Linked DNA regions of Homo sapiens. The protein of the gene in region 2 purifies or fractionates together with the protein of the main gene of each other region. This does not show direct contact. Each region holds a gene or a part of one and is shown on either strand. Other genes may lie near its edges. The genes, in order: CACNG6, PRR27 and GNPTAB.

Evidence for each region.
Region 1: the proteins of PRR27 (region 2) and CACNG6 purify together in Homo sapiens (affinity purification with mass spectrometry; one large-scale study listed by BioGRID and IntAct). This does not show direct contact.
Region 3: the proteins of PRR27 (region 2) and GNPTAB purify together in Homo sapiens (affinity purification with mass spectrometry; one large-scale study listed by BioGRID and IntAct). This does not show direct contact.

Annotation. Positions count from the first base shown.
Region 1 is NC_000019.10:53,990,170-53,994,522, reverse strand, and holds the start of CACNG6 (voltage-dependent calcium channel gamma-6 subunit), read right to left. Parts: upstream 2,887-4,353; 5' UTR 1,646-2,886; coding exon 1,315-1,645; intron 1-1,314. UniProt on the Homo sapiens protein: Regulates the activity of L-type calcium channels that contain CACNA1C as pore-forming subunit.
Region 2 is NC_000004.12:70,164,202-70,167,228, reverse strand, and holds the end of PRR27 (proline-rich protein 27 precursor), read right to left. Parts: 3' UTR 620-3,027; downstream 1-619.
Region 3 is NC_000012.12:101,747,841-101,750,974, forward strand, and holds part of GNPTAB (N-acetylglucosamine-1-phosphotransferase subunits alpha/beta precursor), read right to left. Parts: intron 1,352-3,134; coding exon 1,261-1,351; intron 1-1,260. UniProt on the Homo sapiens protein: Catalyzes the formation of mannose 6-phosphate (M6P) markers on high mannose type oligosaccharides in the Golgi apparatus.

The DNA.
Region 1 (4,353 bases), on a different chromosome or scaffold from region 2:
TAGAAGGAGATTTCATCCAGTTCCCAAGGGGTATAGAATGTCCCCCTGGTATAAGCACAAGCCGTGGCGTGGCGTGTCAGGGAGGTATGGAACAGCTCTCTGCCATGCCCAGGGATAAAACAGCCATGATTTGGGAAAGGAGGGAGTATGGGAATGTCTCTCGGAGAAAATGAGAAACGCTGAAATGTCCAGTCTGGGCATTTGGAGGCGAGAGGACAGGAAGTGAAGAACATTGCAGGGAAGGAACAAGGTCTGCCCTCGGGTGTTGGGAGGCGTCTGGTGAGAGCTTGGTTTGGTGGAAGCAGTAGGTGGGGAACAGGCATAGATCCTGCTTTGGGGTGGGCGTCTGTCTCCCCAGGGCTCACAGGATGGGAGCGCAAGCTGTCTCCAGGCTGGGAAGAGGAAGCTGACACCAGGAACCCAGGCTGTCTCTCCATGGGCACAGGCTGTCTGTGGGCACATGCAGAGTGGGCACGGGCTGTCTCCAGGGCACAGGCACTTCCAGAGGGTGCAGGCTGTCTGGGGTGGGCACAGGCTATCTGAGGACACCAGCTGTGTCTGGAATCACAGGCTGGGTCTGGGGACACAGGCAAGATTTTTCTAGTGACACAGGCTCTCTCTAGAGCTGTAGGCTGGTCTGGGGGGACACAGCGATGCCTGGGAACATTGGCTGTGTGGGGGCAGGGACTTTGGGGGTCATAGAATCATCTGGGACCATAGCCTGGTGTGGAGGTGCAGGCTGATCTGAGGGCACAGGCTGGTGTAAGGATGCAGGCTGGTCTGGGGGTATAGACTGGTCTAGGGGTGCATGTTAGTCTGGGGGTGGAAACTGTAGCTGGGGACACAGGCTCATCTGGGGGTACAGGATAGTCGGGGTACAGGATGGTCTTGGGGCACAGGCTGTAGGCGGGGGCACAAGCTCTCTTTAGAGGTGCAGAATAGGGGTACAGACTCGTCTGAGGGGGTCTCAGGTCACAGCCTGGTCTGGGGGTACAGGATGGCCTGGGGGCACAGACTCCCTGTAGGCACATTCTGGTCTTGGGGTACAGTCTGTAGCAGGAAAGCAAGCTCTAAGGCACAGGTTCTCTGGCGGTAGGCCCGTGAGGGACCTGGGCCATATCTGGGGGATCCCTCTATCTCTCAGCAGTTTCTGAGAGCAGAGGACGAAGTGGGCACTGGCGCTTACTGCGAGGCAAGCTGTCTCCTCCGGGCTCAGGCTTTTGTCCCTGGGGCGGGTTTTCTCCTCGGACACGGGCCCCTCTCCCTCCCTGTCCGTGGGACGCAAGCCCTGCGCTCGGGGCGGCGGCTGCTCACCTCCGGGCAGCTCCGCGGGGCCGCAGGTGTCCCTGTCCACGGGCACGTCCGCCTGCCACAGCCGCTTGGTGCACGCCTTCCACAGCCCCAGGTGGGCCGCTTCGCACACGGCGCTGCCGTTGGCCTTGTAGGTGTTGAGCTCCACCCAGAACTCGGTGCCCACGGACAGCACCGCCAGCGTGGCGCCCACGGCGGCCAGCAGCAGCGCCAGCTTCACCTTCCCCTCGCGCTCGGGCGTCAGCCCCGACCTGCCCTGCCCGTGCGCCCGCCGCCGGCCCGCGGCCCCCCGCCGCCGGTTCTCCTCTTGCAGGAAGAAGTTGGACCACATCATCTTATGGCCGGTGGGGTCGGGAAGGGGGAGGAGGCAGAGCCGGCGAAGGGCCTCGAGGGGCGGGAGCGAGGAGCGGCCTGGGGTCTTGAAGGGGGTGAGGGACTCAGTTTCCCCTGGGTATGAAAGAGGGAGAGCCGAGTCCTGTCTGGAATCTCAAATGCGAAAGTCGAGATTGCTTCTGGGGTTCAGAAGAGAAAAATGATCCCCAGGGCTGGGGAAGCCTCTGGGGTTCAGAGGAGGGTCTAGGTTGCCCTCAAGAACTTGGCAAAGAAGACGGGGCCCAGAGGAAAAACAAGGCCCCCACCCTGAGGTTTAGAGATAGAATTCGGCTTCCCAGGAGGGAGTCCCCCCAAGAGCTCCAGAGGAATGAGAACTGGTGCCCGCTGAAGCTCCCTGCAGCTCCAAGGGGCTGCTTTGGGGTCCCCGCTGGGGGGTTAACAAAAGGGAAACTGGTTTTCCTGAGAGATCTGAGCACCCCACTAGGGCTAAGAGTTTGGGGTACCCAGGAAGGGACCTGAGGTCCTGTGTGTGTTTGGAGGAGATGTGGCCGGGGTTCCCTTGGGCTCAGAGTTTGAGAACAGAGGACTTGGGGACCCTCTGGGATTCGGAAAAGGAAGACCTGGGGTCCCGGGAAGCTCCCAAGGGGAGGTCGGAATTCAATCCGGGTCTCAAGAGAGGCAGTAGGACCCCGGCATCCACAGAAGGAGAAGAACAGAGCCCTGGCTGGGGCTCAGAAGAGGACTGGGCCTCGCTGGAATTCAGGAAAAGGGGATAGGGGTCTCCCCTGCCATTCAGAAAAGATCCGAGGTCTCTACTGAGCCTGGAAAAGGGGCCGGTGGCCGGAAGACAGAGTGGAGTCCAGAGGCGGGAGGCTACGGGGCCTCCCCGAGGGCTGGGGCAGATGGGACCGGGGGCCCTCCTGGGGCTCACACTATGGGGCTGTGGTCCGCACTGCGGCTCGGAAAACCAGGACTGAGTCCCCCCAGGGTTCAAAGGCCAACCGCGACCCGCAAGAGACGCTGCGCCCCTTCGGGATCAGTCCGTCTCCCTCCCCCGGGCTCCCAGGGCCTTCCCGGTCGGGTTCGCGCCAGGCTCAGCCCCAGGCCAGGGCCCCCCCTCGGGGCTCCCACCCCCGACTCCCGAGCAGGGGCCCCTCTCGCTCTCCTGCCTCGGCCCCGCGCCGACCCCAGCTCCGCGCTGCCTCCGAAGCGTCCGGCTGTGCCCGCCACCGCCACCGGCCTGGCCTCCGCCCGCGCCCGGCCTCGTCCCCACCCGCCCACCCCCCACCCTCCACCCTCCACCCTCGGGGCTATTTCGGGCTTGACCCGTAAATAACACCCGCACCTGTCGCCCGGCGCCTGTTGCCATAGGGATCCCGGGTGTTTTAAGGGGACGAGGAAGGGGGGAGGGAGGCCGCCCGGGGAGGAAGGGGCCGAGCCTGATGGGACTTTCATTTCACTAAGGGGCAAGAGCGGCGCCGAGAGTCCCAGCTCCGCAGTCTCCCGGGCAGCAGGAGACGGGCGGGGCAGCAAGTCTGACTGGGGTTACCAGGGAGGAGGGGCGGGAGGCAGGGCCCCGGGTCTCAGGGAGGAGGGCCTGAGGCCAGGAGTCTTGGGTCCCTAAGGGAGAAGAAGCCTCGGTACCCCACTTCTGAGTGGTAGAGGAAGAAGGCCTGGGTACCCAGAATCTTGGATCTGAGAGGAGAGGAACCTGGTCTCCTAGGTCCTGGGCTCCTGAGTCTGAGGGAGGAGGGGCTGGGGGCCTGAACTCCTGGGTCTGAGGGAGGAGGGGCTGGGGTCTGGACTCCTGGGTCTGAGGGAGGAGGGGCTGGGCCTGGGCTCCTGAGTCTGAGGGAGGAGGGACTGGGGCCTGGACTTCTGGGTCTGAGGGAGGAGGGACTGGGGCCTGAACTCCTGGGTCTGAAGGAGGAGGGGCTGGGGGCCTGGACTCCTGGGTCTGAGGGAGGAGGGGCTGGGGGCCTGGACTCCTGGGTCTGAGGGAGGAGGGGTTGGGGGCCTGGGCTCCTGGGTCTGAGGGAGGAGGGGCTGGGGGTCTGGACTCCTGGGTCTGAGGGAGGAGGGGCTGGGGCCTGGACTCCTGGGTCTGAGGGAGGAGGGGCTGGGGGCCTGGGCTCCTGAGTCTGAGGGAGGAGGGGCTGGGGGCCTGGACTTCTGGGTCTGAGGGAGGAGGGACTGGGGCCTGAACTCCTGGGTCTGAAGGAGGAGGGGCTGGGGGCCTGGACTCCTGGGTCTGAGGGAGGAGGGGCTGGGGGCCTGGGCTCCTGGGTCTGAGGGAGGAGGGGCTGGGGGCCTGGGCTCCTGGGTCTGAGGGAGGAGGGGCTGGGGGCCTGGGCTCCTGGGTCTGAGGGAGGAAGGCCTGGGCCTGGACTCCTGGGTCTGAGGGAGGAGGGGGCAGGGGGCCTGGACTCCTGGATCTGAGGGAGGAGGGGCTGGGCCTGGACTCCTGGGTCTGAGGGAGGAGGAGGGCCGGGGAGCCTGGACTCCTGGTCAAGGCGTTGGCAGACCCAGAGTCCTGGGCCTCAGGGAGGAGACTGGGGCCAGAACCCTGGGTCTTGAAGGATGGAAGGCCTGATTTCCATGTTGGAGAAAGCGCAGGCCTCAGGGCAGGGCCGGCTGTCAGGGGCACAGAATGAAAGCAGCACTCCTCTTCATCGAGTTTATTAGACGGGGCACCCCTGGGGGACCTTC
Region 2 (3,027 bases):
CTTGTAGAGGAATATATTTCCTTGTGCAGATCTGTACAAAGATTACATGACAGAAGATGTCTTCTCACTGGATTGCCACAGCAAAAGTGGAGAAGTTTGGTACTTTAAAATATCACTGGTGTATTTCTACACTGCATGTACCATTGGTCCATTATCTGGTTATATAATAAAAATAAGTAAATTAACATTTCAATCAAGGAAAAGCATCAAAACATGAAGGTAGGATTTAGCATTCATGTTGCCCTTTTACACACTCTGATTTAAATTCCAGCCCTTAAGTTACAGGAATTTACTTATTGTATTTTCTCTAGATACAGCTTAATAAGAAATGGAGGACGCTATTTTCTTACTTTATATTAAAAATTTTAAAGTTAATGAAGATACTGTTAATATTACCTTAAATTTTTTGATAGTGACCATAATTATTACACCAATTTTCATAAAATAATTTTTGAGAGTTAAGAATTGGGATACACACATGTGGAATTAAAAAACATAAAGCATTAAAACATACTTAAATGTAAGAATGTTATGGTGCTACCTCTTCACTGAATGAATCACAGTTGCATCAAACATCTCCCCACTAAAAACAAGAAAAAAAGTGACTTACTTCAGTTAGTTATTTCAATAATATTTTAATAATGTTTGCTATTAGAATCCATGGTTATTCGTATTCAAAATGGTTAGAGAAAATGTTCTTATTGGTGTCATACTCATATATGGATTTTGTAACTTATCGACATATGTAGTCATTTAAAAAAGATTATCCATTGTGATATTGGTGGAAAATAGTATTTTCTCTTATAATTTTTTATTTCAGTTTTGGGTTAAGATTTTTACTATGCATGCACATGCACACATATATACATACACACATATATGCATGTGATAATATAAATAATGAAAAGTTTTATTCAGGCTACTTGCAAAGGTCTGAGATAAGGCCTATAATTAACTTAAATTAGTCTATAAGTTCTATAGCATAATGTAGGAAATATAGTTTACTTTTTAGTCAAATAAAATGTGATATATTTGATCTTTCATGGCAAACATCAATTAAAGTGAAACTATGAATACATTCAAAAATGTGAAAAGTCTCAGAAATATAAATGTTGAGTAAAAATAGTAAATTGTGAAATGACATACCATTTATTATATGTCTTGTTTATATACATTTTTAAAACTCATAAAACTCTTTTATATATTAAGTGCCACATAAATGCATACTAAAATTTTAGAAAAAAGCCAGGGAATTATACACACAAACTTATACCTCTTTGAGGTCCTGACTTTCTGGCCACAAAAGAAAGAAATAGAAGAAAGGATGTATAGTGGGCCATCTGGCAATCACTGGAGAAGTATAGTGGTTGTTGCAGTTGATACCAGTGTGAAGGTGTGAACATTTCTTAATCGTAAATGCGAATAGTTACCTGTCTGTAGAAAGTAGCACTGAATAAGAATCAGTCACCTTCTGTAAGCAATGACATTATATCATTTTCCAGTGGCTAAAGGGAACGCTATACAGTAAAGAATTATGTAAGATGGATATAAACACACATACAAAACTCTGCAAATGTATCTTAATATCGATCAAAAGATATGACTCAAAATAATTTCGCAGTAGCATTTTTCTATAAAAAGCTCAAAAATAGGCAAAAGTGAACAATATTATTTTATAGAATACATTAGAGGTGGAAAAATCATTTTTAAAAGTAGAATGAATTACCCTAATCCACTAAGTAGTTTTTAACTCTACAGATAAGGAAGAAGGTGGATTCATAAAGCGACATTAAACAATACATGCAGTGATGGAAATGTTTTATAATTTAGTGTGAAATTTCCAGATGGTGGTGGTTACATGTATGTTTTCTTTTGGATTATTTATGATAATACAAACTTGTATGTAGTATTTTGAATGTGTCATAGACCTTACCAAAAATAGTCTTTAAAATGTATAATTAACAACATTTTTGACTAATTGAATGCAATAAATGGAAGACAAAGTAATTGAGGAAGTTCCCAATCTTCTGGTTTGGATGACTTTTCTGTGTCTCAAAGCTGATGCCTGTTTACTAACAACAGTTTGTTTTCCACAGTGGAAATTACCTCAATTCAAATGTTAGTGTTTACCTTTCACTCAATCTAACTCATCTCAATGTAGTCAGGAGGAAAAAAATGAACACTAAAAACAAAATATTATTGTAGTGATAGACTTAAATTTCATACTTTCACAACTGACAGAGCAGAACATTTCACAGTATCTTGTAGTAAAAGCAAAAACTGTAAATGTTTCTCATGATAAGATGTCATGTTTATTTTTAAAATTCCAAAATTTTCTTGGAATAAATTCTTTCTTTTACCCCATGAAAAACTTAACAAATGACTACATTCTAAATGTGATACTAAACACCACATAATGTACCATTAGCAATTATAATTTGCTAAGACTTTGTAGCCTCTTGATATTTCTATTTCGGTTCATCTTCATCTTTCTGTTGTTTCTTATACAGTCATATTTACAAATTCTTCTTTAAGTCTTCAATTCACACAAAAAGCCTGAATTTTGACAACATAATCATTAAAATTGACTATCATGTATGATTACAAATTTATCATTAAATATTTAGAAGTGAATATTGCATGTATCTGTGAAAGACAGATACTATAATAGTTTCAGATTATTGGCTAAGTCAAATTAAAGTTAGATCCTACTTGGCTCTAGAAGATGGAAGCAAACATCTCAAGTTAACAATTTTACTGTCTAAGAAAGTTTCTCATTTTTTGAGACCATGTCCTCATGGCTATACATAACAGTAATATTCTGATCCAATGTAGGATATAGGGAAAAATACAAAATTATTTCAAAATAAAAATATGTTGAATGTTTGTAAAAATTTTTTCTTCCTTCATTCTTTGTTTGTTACTTCATTCTTTCTTCTTTTCTTTCCTTCCAAAAATATTCACTGGTCACTGAATATGTCCCAGGCATTGTTATAGGCCCTGATAAAGTGCTGAATAAGACACAGA
Region 3 (3,134 bases), on a different chromosome or scaffold from region 2:
CCTTCCCTCTTCCTGCCTCTCTAGTTCCCTATTCTCTACTGGTATAGATAGACTGGTATAGATAGAGGAAAGACTGCCTCTCTAGTTCCCTATTCTCTACTGGTATAGATAGAGGAAAGACTGACACTCCTCTTCCTTTCCATTAATGGCTGCTCCTTTGAGTCAGGGCTCCTTTCCTTCCCCATCCTAGGTCAGCACAGCAGACTCAAAGGTTTCTCACTGGACCCTGTTCTAAAAGCAGGTACAGCCTTTCTGAGATTTTTCATAAGACTTTTACCTGCCAGGAACAATGGTAACAGACATCAAGAACAAGATGTACAATCCCTGGAAAGCAGATGAAGGTTAAGTTGCTGTCCTGTTCACCTGCCCAGTCTCTGTTTCCTGAATTTCCTTCCATTTACAGCAAGAAGCCCATTCATTTATCCTGAAGCTCTCAGTACTTAGGTGCTTGTCCTTCTTGGTATAAGTCAACTTGGTGTACGTTTCATTTGAGTGACAGCTAGAAAAGCTCCACTCAATAGTCACCTTGATTGGAGGCAGAGGCCAAGTCACTTGCCACACCCAAGTCAGGTTGGTAAAGATGCCCATTCCCCTCCTTCAATCCTTTTTCTTCAGAGTATTTGATATGTGAATAGCCTAATGAGGACTCTCTTATCCCTTTCTCTTTACCTCACAAATCTCCCTCCGACTTCTGGACACTCACCTCAAGGAGGCTGCGTGTGTACATGCATGCAGAGGAAAGCCCAGGTGTAGAGGGGCTGACAAGGAGAGGAGGAAGGAGGAGAGAGGAGGGAGAACTCCTAGCGATTGAAAGAAAGATAAATGGGAGCTACTGGTGTGAGTGGGACAACACAACGGAACCGTGGGATGTCTGAAGACACTGTGCTCACTCAAGGAAGCGTGAAAGAGAGGAAGAAAATTGGAGACCCATAGAAAATTAACATTAGATAAGGATTCTAGATGGTTTTTTGGTTATAAATACTTAGAGCTACTTGGTTTTAGCCTGATATCTACAAGTTAATCTGTTGAGTTCCAGATAAAAAGAATACTGGTAATGGATTTAGAAGAGAAATGAATAAAAGACTGTTATATTTGCTGCCTGAATATTGTGAAACATATTTAACATATTCACATATGAGCTATAAGACAATAAGAGAAGTTAAAATTTTGATTGTAAATGTGTATCATTTTCTAAAACATTCAGATGCTAGTATACCAAGAAATACCATTTAATACCCACATAAAATATATAAAACTTACCTGCTCAGCAAAAAATGAGAATATAGTAAACATAATCAATGTTGCTAGTACACAATGGGTCCAAAACTTCAATTTGTCTCGATAAGCCCTCCTGTGCAGAGAGAAGAAAGCAACTATGTACTTCTGTATATGGTTTCACTACCATTAGTTAAGCATTATTTATATACTAGTTCTATAAAAACAATGTTGGGAAACACAAAAACATTGTCTTGCAATTCTAAAATGCTCACACAATATACATTTCCAACACGAGTTCAGATTTTTTATTATGTCATAGTAAATATTATACTTGAATTAGTGAAGTTATCCAGGCAGGAGAGAGGACTTCAAAAGAAAATTACTTCTGGCACTTAAACAAAACCACTCTTTCATTCATTTTTATTCACTCATACTTATTTATTCACTCAGTTTCTTGATAAATACTTCCTGCGTATATGGAGAGATGAACAAGATGAAGTCCCTGCTTTTAAGTGTTTAGAAAACTGAGGCGTTGCTGACATGCTGACTGATGACTTGCCATCACATAAGACACAGAAATATGCATTATCAAAAGCAAAGTCATGTGAAAAACTTAGAGAAATGAGGACAGTGCCACAGAGATGGTGGCATTTCCTGTAAGCCTTGAAGGGGACAGGAAGCATATGGATGAGAAAGAGAAGGAGCAGTAGAGTGGCACGGTGGCCAGCTGGGCCCTACAGGACTGAGTGGAGTGAATCCATGCGGCAGCATGGGGGGAACTAAGCCAGGTGAAGGCGAGAGGGTATGAACTGCAGCTGCTTTGCAAAACCACACCGTGGGGTCTGGACAGAACACTCTAGTGGGAAAGTGGATGAAACAGACAGGTGGGGGTATGTGTGACATAATCAGGGTAAACATGTTGGCCATTTGAAGGATGGACAAACAAGGAAGGCAGGCAGTTTAGTTTTAGTCCAGGCATGAAAGGAAGCAGTGACAATGAAAAGAAATAAGCAACAGAAGAGACATTCCTGAGGTAGAATCAACTGGACCTGGAGCCAAGAGAATACTGAGGATAAAAAGAGGCAGTACAGCCATTTCCTCATCTGTAATTTGGAAATAATGAACAATTGGTTACGAAGATTAAATAAAAATGCTTACCATAGGTTTGGAAGATATGCTAGTAACTACCAAACTCTGGCCTCTGTGCTGAGTTACAGATTCTCATTTTCCACTGTTTGGGCGTCTCTACCTCAAGTCACACATCCAAAACGGCACTCGCCCACACACAGCTCTTCCCCCTGTATTTCCCACTTCTGTTAATAGGATCATAACCAGCTCTGTCAACTAATGTCTAGTGTCAGTGCAGTGAGAGACAATGCAGAACTAAGCAGGATGAGGAGCAAGCAACCTCCAGGGCAGGGGAATGACTGCAAGAGCACCCACACCTGATTCACACCATTTGTACAGCACAGAAATCAAGGTCCTCTCAAATTACTTTTAAGCCCACTTCTTTCTTATTCAAATGGACCCTTGAGGGTAAATTTAGTCACAAATTGAATTTGGGGAGTTAACACTTAGAACCACCTAAAGATCTTTTTCCTCTGAGTTAAGGGAAAGTGAAAACGGTGAGAAGCCATTCCTTGCCATTTCTGGGAGACAAGACCCATGATTCAGTAATAACTTCTCCTTATGAAAATAAAAACATAAAGATAGCAGCAATATTCATCCTAATTGTCTCATTTGCCCAACTCCAAGATACCGAGGAGTTCTAGTGCCAGGGTCTGCCAATTTCCCTTTTAAAGTGTCTCCCAGTTCGTCTATTGCTTTTTCTTTATTGCCTAGGCTGTATCCTTGGTTCACACCTGACTGACTGTTTCTAGGACTAGTGAAATGCTTATATACTTGTCTCCCTGCCT